3 separate regions of the Homo sapiens genome follow, and regions 2 and 3 are each linked to region 1. Evidence: fine-mapped expression QTL. A gene starts in region 1. Each other region holds a variant in brackets. All regions are shown on one strand. Distances are from middle to middle.

Region 1 (4,231 bases):
CCAATCTGGTTGGAAAATAAAACGCTTTGTCTCCACAACCACCCCCCACAGCACCCCCACCCGCTCTCAGTGTGTGTTTTATACGTGTGTATATCTCAACCCCCTACAGTAGCCAAGAGAAAGCAGCTAGCCAATGAGAGAGCCCAGTTTCATAAAAGCTGCTCTCTGATTGGCCCGATGCGAAAGGGCACTGGGAACAAAGAAAAGTCCCTTTCAGGTATAGAGGCTGAGAGCTTCTTTTGCTCCACTCCCCCTGTGTGTGTGTTGTGTTTCAGTCCTGATTTAGTGTTGCAGAACAAGCTTGTTGTGTGTGTGCACCAGGGGGATTTTTGTTTTGCTTTTTTTAAATTTTAATTTTTGCTTTTATAAAAAATACACAGGACGGTCTGTGACATTTGATGGTCCATCTTCTTTAATAATAAATTTGTTGAAGAGATTATAATTTCCAAAATAAAGCGGCTGCAACCAAACACATTCAATGCAGTTAGAAGGAAAAGGTCAACTCGATCCAATACAGACCGTAAGTACGGTTGCGTGGTGTGTCTCTATATAGCACTTAGCGGGGACTTCATGCAGGGGAATGTGCGAGTTTTATGCATAGAAATGAGGAACTAGTTACAGGGTTTGGCTTTTGCATTTAGAACAACAACCCAAGAAGGGTGAATTTTATTCAGTGGAGGGTGAAGCATTTGTAACTTCACACAAATTAAGCTTGACTGGGCACTCGGGGTAACTTAGAGGAAATTAGCTTTTGGGCTCTAACCCAAAGGAGAATAAAAGTGACACAGTTGCATATCCTGGTCTGCAGTGTCAATTCTCTAGCTCACCTTACTCCCTCCCTCTTCTGTCCTAGCTGGGCAGACCCCCCTCCCAAAGCGATCCAGGAAAATGGGGGCAAGGGCAGAACAAGCCGATTTCTGTCTCCTGTCAGATCCCAGTGCCCGATAATTTAATATTAAACAAGGGAATAGTCACTCATTACATGTAATGGTTATAATTACCATTCGCCATCTCCTTAAAAAAGCAAGCAACAAAAATACCATTAAGAGAAAAAATAAAAGCCCCACCCAACCCAAACAAACCCACAAATAGTAACAATGGTGTATTTATTACAGGACCAGGCTGGGGAGCAAGCAAAAGGTTTTTCTTTGTTTAATACATGAAGTGGGGGTCCCTAAAATCCAAGTAGCTCGGAGATACCCTTCTCCCTCCCCCAGGCGTCCCCGTCCCTGGCCCCTTGGGAAAGCCGACAAATTGGAGATAAGTTGAGGAAAGGTTTATAAAGTGTTTCTTTAAAACATCTGCTTTGCTCTTGTGCTCATTACATTTCGCTCCTTCCGAACTTCGGAGATCCTAGATCTCCGAGAAATGTTTCACATTCATAACTTGTAGCTTCGCCCACTGCGGGGGGGCGGGGGGAGGAGGTTGGGGGAGTGTGTGCAGGGGGAGGGGAGAGACTTTCAGCTTTTTTTTTTTTAAAGACCAGATCAGTATTTTCTTGATACGCTTGTCACCATTTTTGTTCTCACGACAACCAATTGAGCCCTTGATCCTCACGTGATGTGAAAGGCTTGCACTGTAACAAAATCGCTCCTTTTAGATGGTTGGTTGTTACTAACTCGCCCATCCCCCTCTCCCAGCCCCGACATTTCCAGCAAAGCGACTCTCCACTTCCAATCCATCAACAATTCATTACTGCTTTTAGCTTCCAAACGCCAGCTAATTAAAAATACTAAGCCAAGCTCCGGGGCCATCTGACTAAACACAGGAGGGGCTGGGCGAAGGGAGAGGAGAGAAAAAATAAATAAAAGGGAGACACACCGTTTGCTGCGAGTATAAGAGGGAAAAACTCCCGAAAAGGGTCGCCTTAAAAAAAAAAAAAAAGAAAACAAAAACCTTATTTTGACTCTAATTATCGAATTACCACATGACTGGCTGACCTGAGCGACAGAGGATTCCACTCCCCTCGGGAGCTATACTAGGAACTCAGTTCCTTTTTCTTAAAACAACATAAGACAGGAAAACATCACATCCTTTAGGTTTCGAAGACTGAGCCCATTTTAAACGCCGTTATTTTCCCCACCCCACCGCCCCAAGCCCCCCGCCCCCCGCCCCGAGCGAATGCTGTTATAACTGGTTTATCAGCTCACTGAATCATCTGCTGTCTCCTCCTCCACACCTTTCTTTTTCTCCTCTTGCCCAGTTTCTCATCCCACCCTTTCTTCTCCTCCTCCTCCCTCTACTCCCCCCCTCCTTTTCTCTTAAGTTAGTTCAAGAAATCAAATCTGTCAGGACGGGCGGAAAAATGCCACTTCCCGACTAACAGGCGGAATCCAGCCCAGATTTTCAGTCCTTTCTTCTTATTCTTTCTTCCCTTTCACTAATTTATCCCGATGTTAGCACATTCTGTCTCGTTACTAGCGGACGCCTGTAGGTTTGCTACATGGGATCATTACTGATCACGGTGACTCTGAAGTCTGGAACTGAAGGCGGAATGAGAAGTTGGGAAAACTTTTTTCTCTAAACTCTCTGTTTTTTAAAAAACTATTATTCTCGATGCTTGTTAAGAGGAAAAAAAAACCTTTGGTGCTTCTGTTGTGAATGTGAAACATTATTTTCCAGCTGTACAGTGACACATTTTTTTTAAGGAGAAAAGGACTGATTCGTTTGCCAAAAGGGGGGTGGGGAGGTGGAATAATGTTATCGAGTGATTATTCTGGCTGAGATGTGTTATTTGGTTTCTTCCTTCTTGATCATTTGGTGTTTAAGTAAAATGAGGCACAGGCTTGTTTGCCGAGTGGAGTGGGAAAGGCATTTTGATTTGCTGGCCTAATTAAAAAATGATAAAGGATTAAAAGGTAAGCAATGTCTGTGTGTGTGTATGTGTGTGTGTATGTATATTTATTTATTTTTTTCTTGACAATCAACTGTTAAAAAGGGGCTGATCCCTTTAAAAACCGTTTTAACTGCTCTTTGTCAAACACACTCATTTGCGGTCATTGAGGCCACCTTGGCGCAGATCACTTAAAGTGTATGTCTTAATCAGTTTTCTGTACAGTCAGTAGCACCGTATTTAAGAGAGTGAGCAATTCTCTGACCTAGGAATATGGTAGAATTGTTTAAATGTATTTTTTTCTCAAAAGGCAGGTATTTAACTTTTTATATAACACTGTCTTTTCTAGAGAGAAATGCTCTTAAAAGACATGCATATTTCAAAAAAGAAATTGTAGAAGCTGTTTGGGAAAAGAGGATAGGAGGGAGGTATGTGTGTGTGTTGGGGGCAGTTATTGGTTGTTTTTTCTGTTCCTTACTAGGAACAAAAAACAGATTGCCCAGACAATTTGTAAAAAGAAGTACTGAAACCTAAATTAGAAATAAGGAAAATTTAGCAACATTCTATTCTGAAAACTAGCCTCAGAACTTCCAGGGTCTGGTCTTCTAAATTGCAAGATCTAGGACATGTTTAGGGATGTTTAAAGCTGTGTTCTTCCTTCTTGTCTGAGTGTTCAGGCTGTGTTTCTGGGGTTGAGATATCACATGTGCCAGACTGAAATCCTAAACTTTAAAAAAGAACACAAAAACCTTTCTGGACTTGAATCAGATCCTTAAGATAATTTAATGCTTTTAAAAAGGTGATTATCCTTGTGTTGTTGATAAAGGGATTTTCTTTTTAGCTACCGTAAGATGCTTACTGTCATAGGTTTATTTTTCGGGTTTGGTTATTTTCCTTTAAACCTGATATTGGACTGTGAGGACAATACATGAGCCACCTTACTCTCCATCCTTCCCTGTCCCCTTTACTGATTCCCCAATACTAATCGTTTTTTATTCTGGTAACACCCAGACAAGAAATATTCGACTTTTCCCCCCCCCTTCACAGGAAAAGGTGGACCTGGACTGAGGGTGTAAAATCCCTGGACACATTCGTGGGGCAGGAAAAAGAAGAGGAAGATTAGAAGATTTTTTTTTTCTTTGAGAGAAAGCCCAGCGGAGATAAACGAATGTCCCCTCATCTCCAAAGAAAAGTTCATCGGATTTTTATTCTAGAGAGCTCATCTTCAGGATGTCAGTGAACATTTCTACTGCAGGAAAAGGTGTGGATCCAAATACAGTTGATACTTATGACAGTGGCGATGATTGGGAAATCGGGGTTGGAAATTTAATAATTGATTTGGACGCTGATTTGGAGAAGGACAGACAGAAATTTGAGATGAATAATTCCACCACCACC
Region 2 (4,239 bases), 110 kb after region 1:
TAAATAAAGTATATATGAGAAGAAAACAATTGTCTCTTTTAAGATAATATTATTGTTATTGTACTGTCTTAAGTTACCTCTGGGAAAAGAAAATATATCCAAATAAAAGACCTAGAAGGAGACAGTAATCTTCCCTAGGTTTGCATTTGTTTACTCTATTTTTCCCCAGGACTGTCTTCTATAGAATTTAAAAGAATTCTCTGTTAGGCAACATCATGCCATTTGGAGCTATTACAGTCTCTGACTGCTACCTTTGTCTTGCAGGGTGAAAGTTAAGAGCATTTCTAAGTTTGATTTACTGATTCTGTGTATCTTATGGGATGCATTGTGTTCAGTCACTGGGGAAAATGTTAAAGTGATAACAATTATTATGAAAGTATTGTATTCTAGGCAAATAGCATGCCGCTTCTGTAATTCACTGTGACTTTTGATTCCTGTTGTTACCTGGTATCTGTTATTTCTCCTGAGCTTCCTATTCAGGGAATGCATGCAAACCATTTAGCACCATGCAGAGCCGGAGAGATGGAATGCTGTATCTCCTTCGAATAGCTATTAAGAAAACTGCAGAGTATTCAAGAAAGGATAGATAGCAGATAGACCAAATGGTTTGTACTGTGTCCTTGCTGCATGAAACAGTTCATGTGTGTGTTTAGGAGAGGACACCATGCTGCTACTAGGTCTGCGGCCCTTCTCCACTGGGCCTGTATCTACTCTTATCCTTCTAAAGATCACAGACACTCTACATTTTTTCCCCATTAGGCTTGACCTCTGCTGCCCTTGTTGCCTCTCAGCAGGTGGCTGCCCAGGCATCTGCATCTGGAATGTTTCCTGGACAAAGAAGGTAAATATCCTCTACATTTTTAATTAGTTGTAGATAGAAATATCTTAATGGTTGGGAGGAAGCAAGTACAGGATTTTTAGACCAAAAACTTAACTCCTTGGGTTTTATATCATTGTAATGAATGTGTTTATTATGCCAATATAAGTTGCTTCACATGCAACTTAAATTCCATGAACCTCATTCTGTAAGGGTTACATAGATTAGTAATTAACTGATTAGTTTTTTAGACAGTTGAAATTTTCTTGGGTTATCCTTACGGCATTTCTAAAATAATTCACCATGACTCCCTTTGTTTTATTATGTTTAAAGATAAAGTCGCAAATGGAGACATTTATTTTCATAATGCTAAAGGTAATGTTTGTTCTTTGATATTTTAAATTATTCCCTAAGTTTTATGAAGGAAAATGATTTAAAGGAATTAAATTATTAATATTATAAAATTAATATTTTTCACAATGTATATCATTACTTTATGTTTATTCACTTTCTCTGGAATTGAATTCCACATTTGAATGGAATTAAAATAAGACTATCGGTCTTATGGTTTTCTGGTTTACAGTGCCAAATGTTGATAGAGGCTGGGCATGATGGCCCATGCCTGTAGTCCCACCACTTTGGGAGGCTCATGCAGGTGGATCACCTGAGGTCGGGAGTTCCAGACTAGCCTGGCCAACATGGTGAAACCCCATCTCTAATAAAAATACAAAAATTAGCTGGGCGTGGTGGTGTGCGTCTGTAATTCCAGCTACTAGGGAGGCTGAGGCATGAGAATTGCTGGAACCCAGGAGGTGGAGGTTGCAGTAAGCTGAGATTGCACCATTGCATTCCAGCCTAGGTGATGGAGTGAGACTCTGTCTCAAAACTAAAAAAAAAAAAAACTGTTGGCCGGGTGTGGTGGCTTATGCCTGTAATCCCAGCACTTTGGGAGGCCGAGGTGGGCAGATCACCTGAGGTCAGGAGCTTGAGACCAGTCTGACCAACATGGAGAAACCCCCTCTCTACTAAAAACATAAAATTAGCCAGGCATGGTGGCACATGCCTATAATCCCAGCTACTCGGGAGGCTGAGGCAGGAGAATCACTTGAACCCAGGAGGCAGAGGTTGCGGTGAGCCGAGATTGAGCC[A/G]TGGCACTCTAGCCTGGGCAACAAGAGCAAAACTCCGACTCAAAAAACAAACAAACAAAATGTTGATAGAACCGTGTGCTAAGGTTTGCTTTTCTTTTGCAGAGAATAACAAGATTGGACATGTACATTGTCATGTGACTGGATCACATGGGGAAGCGCTTTATACAGACATCAGTTCCATGGTGTTAATTTGAAATGCCTTAATGGCAGGCAAAAACCAGTCATTTCATTTTTGTAAATTACAGATTTTATCACAGAGTAACAAATGTTGCTGTAATTAAACTTCTGTTTTATATATATATACGTATACATATCTGTATATATACATATATATATATATAAATATAAATATATTCTTTACTTTTTGTATCAGTAACCAGGCTCGCACACACAGGGTCTGCTGCCACGTCGCAAACCACTCAGTAAAGGAAATTAAAAATGTATTTGTCATGTTAAAAAGTGTTAGCCACAAAAGGCTACTTACTTTCTTTTCCTTTTCCTTTAAAATTGTAAATAAATAATGTTATGTATCAGTGTGCCTGAACCTTGCATATCCTTCACATATTTCCCATAAGCCCCTCAGAAAGGCTAACTGTGATGATGACACTTTGGTACAATTTAGATGTCTATTTGGTGGCTCCTGTTAAAGACGCACCAGTGTAAAATGTTCCTGTAGTCACTGTTTGTACTTGTGTATTGTGGAAAAAGTACTTTTGGAAGGCATGGGGTTGCCAGTACCACAAAAACTGTGTTGTATATAATGTAAAGATTAAAATGGGGAAATAATGAGCATCTGTGAATAATGAGGTGTCATTTTTTGATAATCTTGAATGGCAAATAACCCAATAGCCTGCGTACCAGAGACATCTGTGATTGTTCTATTACTTGAATAGTTCTACAGTCTTTTTTTTTTTTTAATGTTTACAATTATCCAGTTTTAGAAGAGAGAGACTTTAACGCCATTGCCTGGTTACTTGTTTTATGCTGTAATCTAGTTTATTTTATGTAAAATGTATATTGAATGCTTTCCTTTTTTATACCTGCCTTAAATAATTTGGCAATCAGAATTAAAAAGTTTTTTTTTTTTTAAATAATGGCTTCTTGTCTGTCTCATGTTATTTTCTACCTGGCTGATAGTCATTCTAATTTTCAAAGAAGGGTTTCTTAATATTATTAATATCCAATGCATAAGATACAGTAAACAGATATTAACTTTTCTTATAGGATACATAGGTATAACAACCAAATAGTGTGTTTAATTCGGTGAATGTATTCCCATTTACAGGGTATTTACCCTAAACATGGAGCACGATATCACTAGAAATTAGTAGATACAGGTTTCTATGGTATGGAATGATACTTCAAAGATGCAAATGTTATGACATGTGGATAACAGGAAAAATATGTAAAAAGTCATTTAGTCAGTTAGCTGTCATTACATTGATTTACTAGAATATTTTATGCCAAATTTTAACTGCCTCTTCTCTCCCTTCTTTGCTTGGAACAAACACTTACTGAGTGCCTGCTTTATCCCAAGCACTGCACTGGGTTCTGGCATATTGCAGTAAACAAAGCAGACACAAATTCCTGTCTTCATGGAGCTTTCATTTTTTGGTGGGTGGGATAAACATATCATAAAATATCTGAATAATATATAGAGCATGTTAGATGGTTGATAAATGCAATGAAGAGAAATGAAGCATGGGAGTGGGGCATAGTGAATATGTGCTGGAGTTTGTAACTGTAAACAGAGTGGCCACTAAAGAGATGGGGGGGATCCATGCAGACATCTGGGGGAACACCACTGCAGTGACATGGAAGAGCAAGTACCGAAGCCCCAAGGTGGGAGTGTGCTTTGTATGTTTGGACTGGTTGATTTCAGTGCTCCATTCCAGCTGTAAGTTTTTATTATTTTACTATAATTGCTAATGACAGTGCTACCACGTGGTTTACTAAAAAGTTCTTTAAGCTGACGGAATTTGTCTTGGTATAATTTGGTTAGTTCTACCTAGAGGCCTTTGCATCAGAAATGAATAGAATTTTGCAATCAAAAAGAAATGTTTCCCTTGATTTTGAAAGACCACCTTAGAGTATTGCCTTTGCTGCTTGGCTTACACATCTAGTCTATGTTCTTAATAGATTTCAGTAAGAAGATATTTTTCTGTTAGTTTTCAGTTTTTCTTTTGAATTTCATCCAAGCTGTTATTTATAAAAATATCGTTTGTGGTGTTTAATCCTATACATAAGAGTATTTCACATATTTTTCATCATTTT
Region 3 (4,247 bases), 120 kb before region 1:
GATCTGCCTTTAAAGTATTCATCTGATGAGCCACCCAGCTACACATAGTCATTACCATCTGAATTTCCATTCTGGACTCCAGCCAGTCTGGCTGAGGCAGTATCTGGGCTCTTTGTATAGAGGCAGAGCCAATGCATTTCTTCCCAGAGTACATTTCTTCCCACTATGAAAATAAAAAATGCCTTTCCCCCCTTCTCCTTTCTCCTGTTTTTTTTTTTTTTTTTTTTTTTTCTCAGGTTAGCTTTTACTTCTTTGTGAATATTTACTGTGTAAGCAGGAAAGGGTTCATTTCCGTCCATTACCCCTCCTTGGGAATCTGAATTCTGCATCATCTCTGGTACTTGGCAGCCTGCGTACATAGGCCAAGAGTGAGCATCCTACAAACAAGAAAATAAATAAACCTGATACACCTAGAATAGGGTCCGAACATTACTGCTCAAACCCCATTTCACCTAAGTCCTGTTTAATGGACCAGTGTATTTGGTGTTGGGTATGTGGCTGCTATTAGAAATTTGTTACTTTTCATAAGTACCAAAGGTTGCAGGGGAATCAATTAATAAAAATGTAAATGAGATGGCATTCAAGAATTTCCCTCTAATCCATCACACTCATTCAATGCAGTAGTGTTACAATATGTTTTGCTGGTTGAAAGAGAAAGGAGCCCAGTTATTGTTCAAACGCCAGGAAGTACAAGTAACTTGTACCTAACTTACCTCTGCTCCTGTAAGCACATGCTCTAGATCTCAGCATCCTTTGCCTTGTGCAGCTAACAAGAGAAAGTCAGTTGGGTACAGCTGGTTAATACATACTAAGGCTATTTTCACAGAATCATTTATTCATTCTCCCTCAGCCTTTAACTCTATGAATAGAAACCAGTTTTAGGCTAAGCTCCTATTAGAGGCAGAGTCAAGAGATACAGTATTGGCCAAATCCAATATTTTCTATTGGGATAAATTGGGGATGTATGTAATCTGTTCTTCTTTCATTTTAACTTACATCTTAAGAATATTATATCACTTTGACCCAGTACACTGGACAATGCCTCCCTCTTCACCACAGGGAAGGAAAAAAGATGCATCCTTCTATATGAAATTGGGATTTTTTTTATATCCTGGGAGAGGCCTTAGTAAGTGATTAACCCTGTTATTTAATTATGACAGAGGAGCTGAGGTTCTCAAACTTTAGCAAGCATCAGAATCACCTGGAGGGTTTGTTAAAACACAGATTGCTGAGTCCTGTCCCAGTTTCTGAGTCAGTAGATCTAGAACAGGGCTGAGAATGTGCATTTCTAAAAAGTTTCCAGATGGTTCTGATGCTGCCTTTTCCACACTTTGAGAACCACGGAAATAGTGTGTTTTTCCAGCACCAAAGCCAAGGATTAACTGGGTTATAGCTAACAACCCTAAATAGCACACTCACTAAGTCACCTAAGGGCATACTTTATATTCTGCTTTTCCCGGTTTACTAAAGAGACAGCACCACACTGGATGATTTACAAAGATCATTTTTAATGGCATGGGTCATGGACTGGTAAAACTGCTTAAAAATGTTCCCAACTAAATTATTGTGAGCATGTTCTATTTGGGGCTTTAATTAATCATTCATTCCTATTTTTCTTCCTGAAAAACAAAAATAATAATATAATAACTTCCATTTGTTAATTTCTTCCTACAATGCTACTGGCTCTGTGTTGCCTGGTTCCCATCAGTTTACCTCATTCAACCTTCACTGCAATCAAGGAGGAAGCTTTATCATCCCTATCTGACAGAACTGAGGACATGGCTGAAGGAGATTAAAAGCACATTTGGAAATACCGCTTTAGATACTCTACAAGTTAACCTTGGAATAAACCAGACTATCAGAGGGCATTGTCACTCACTGACGGATTTCTTTCATTCCTCTCTGCTTTGGCATTAGGCAGTCAGC[C/G]ACATCAAGAGACTTCATAAGAAACAGCCCTGTAACTCATTTGTTGCTTTCCTGTAAGAATGTTGTCAAGGACATTATTTACTTCATTACAAAGGGTCTTCTTTGTGCTGGAGAAACTTCTCTCAGATCTCTGTGCCAGGAAGAATGGTGTTTCTCTCAAACACTGGGTTTGATATTACAGATAGTATAAACTATATATCCAGGCACATCCTCCTTTAGTGAGTATATACAAACTGGCTTCACTTCATTTTTTTCATCTTCCAACTTCTCCATAATAATATTTACTTTTAAAAATGTTCTTAACAATGAATATGACCAAGACAATTTGAGGAAACCAATCATAAACTTTGTGTCAATATAGTAAGCATGTTTCCTGCAGGGAGATACCACTGTTCCCACTAAAATAGAACACAACAAAAGGAGGCAGGAGAGAAATGAATGACTTAGGACCTGTCTAGGTTGAAAAGGCAAACTAGAAGTGGGGCACACCTAACTTGTTTAAAAAGACTTTGTCAACTATTATTTGTGTACTCTTGGCATTTCTGTGTTCTCCTCATTCCTATTTCATTCCTATTCCCCTTTAATATTTCCTTTACATACCTGATACCTTCCCTCCCAAAAATGGTGTGTGTCTATGTAGTTCCTTGATGATTTTGTCAACGAATAATAAACCCTGGGTTTTGGATAAGGAGGTGAAAAGAAAGGGCTCTGCTTGATTCTGCACAGGGCTATACACCACAGGGCGAGGAAAAAAGGAAAATCCAAATATGTTTAGTCAGGATGTTTTCCTAAACTATTGAAGAAATCTTATCTGGCCTCCTCTTAAAATATGTAAGAACTGTTTCCAGCTGCTTGTTATTTGGCTGTGCTTATTTTAGACCAAAGCCAATAAAAAAAATGAGACTCTTCCCACAGTTTACTTATTAATTATACAGGAGAAAATAGTAGCTTAACAGGAGAACTCTGGTGGACACCCTTTTACCCAACTTAGCAATACTACCAGTGGGATGAACAGGCACCATGTGTCTGCTTGTGTGACAGTGTGACAAAACACAATACCACTTACCTTTCATTCCTGAGGGGAGAGAAAAGTGCATCCTGAATCTAATTATAGGGAAACATGGGATAAACCCAAACTGAGGGACATTCTACAAAATAAATGGCCTGTATTCTTCAAAACAATATCATGAAAGACAAAAAAAGGTAAGAAAACATTCCAGATTAAAGGAGATTAAAGAGTCATAAAAACTAAACCTAACACAAGATCCCAGATTGGGCTCTGAACCAGGGAGAAAAATGCTATAAAGAATATTATTGGAGTAGTAGCTCGTGCCTGTAGTCCCAGATACTCATGGGGGAGGCTAAGGAGGGAGGATAGCTTGATCCCAGGAGTTCAAGGCTGCAATGAGCTATGAGTAGAACACTGCACTCCAGCCTAGGCATCACAGCTAAACCCTGCCACATATCCCCCAACCAAGGAAAAGATATTTTTGAAGCCTCTGGCAAAATTAGAATAAAGATCTGTAGATTTGATAAGGGATTGTATTAATATTTCACATTTTGATAATTATAACATTGTTATGTGAGCAAATATTCATGTTTTTAGGAAATACACACTGAACTATTTAGGGGTAAAGAAGAACTGTGCCTACAGCTTACCCTCAAATGATTCAGAAAAATAGAATCACATAATCATTTTATGTAGATGGTAGAGATAAATATAGACATAGGTGCATTTACCCCATGTTCACGATGCAGCACGTTCATCACACAGCACGATGGGATAGATGGATGGATTCACAGATGGATGGATAGTTAAAGAGATGAAAGTAAATGAGGCAAAAGGTTAAAAACTGCGAATCCAGGTGAAGAGTATACAGTAGTTCTTTGTACTATTATTGCAATTTTCTCTGTTTGAAATTATCACAAAATGTTTGAGGTTTGTTTTGGAAAAAATAATAGCCACAGAGTATTTTTTTTCCCTAAGTAATAGTGCATGAAGTGTTGTTTGTGATGTGGCAAAGCAAATAGCTGCAAAATAAAGTTATTCACATAACAAGTATGGTCATCTTAAAAGCATGATGCCTAGTGAAAACCACTTCCTTTCATGCACAGACTTGGCTAAATCTTTTTAAAAATTTTTTGAAGCACTGGGGTTGATTATTCACACCACAGAATTCTCACGTGGTAGCAATGTTATGCACGCCATCTTTAAAACATGCTTGGCTCTCAAAAAGCCCTTCCCCCTACCCTCTAAAAAGCACTGGAACACACCAAAGCCTAGGAGGTACCAGCTGGAGTCATATATTCTGTTTTCTCTG

Which allele goes with the higher level. Positions count from the first base shown, and alleles are read on the strand shown. Sizes are in standard deviations (SD) of each study's normalised expression.
As copies of A replace G in region 2, the expression in spinal cord of the gene that starts at base 2,414 in region 1 goes up (small effect, 0.25 SD a copy in GTEx).
For the expression in adrenal gland of the gene that starts at base 2,414 in region 1, allele G in region 3 goes with a lower level than allele C (small effect, 0.38 SD a copy in GTEx).

What was found. PIP is the estimated chance that this variant, and not a neighbour inherited with it, causes the effect.
Region 2: its variant is the best candidate, but not a certain one, in a credible set for the expression of ZNF608 in spinal cord (GTEx, PIP 0.78).
Region 3: its variant is the best candidate, but not a certain one, in a credible set for the expression of ZNF608 in adrenal gland (GTEx, PIP 0.64).

The regions. Positions count from the first base shown.
Region 1 is chr5:124,744,822-124,749,052 of GRCh38, reverse strand. ZNF608 (zinc finger protein 608) reads left to right here and starts at 2,414. Exons shown (of 10, transcript NM_020747.3): 1 at 2,414-2,858; 2 at 3,881-4,231. The coding sequence starts at 4,064. RefSeq lists a silencer at 57-296 and enhancers at 176-1,174, 1,302-1,481, 1,175-2,173, 4,213-4,231, 4,122-4,231.
Region 2 is chr5:124,635,735-124,639,973 of GRCh38, reverse strand. ZNF608 (zinc finger protein 608) reads left to right here. Exons shown (of 10, transcript NM_020747.3): 9 at 760-841; 10 at 2,068-3,059. The coding sequence ends at 2,074. Among named protein-coding and RNA genes, the nearest start is that of ZNF608, 110 kb to the left of the region's middle. The variant A/G (reference allele first, on the strand shown) is at 1,966.
Region 3 is chr5:124,867,372-124,871,618 of GRCh38, reverse strand. LOC105379157 (a long non-coding RNA gene) reads left to right here. Exons shown (of 2, transcript NR_188329.1): 2 at 1,709-2,834. Among named protein-coding and RNA genes, the nearest start is that of ZNF608, 120 kb to the right of the region's middle. The variant C/G (reference allele first, on the strand shown) is at 1,927.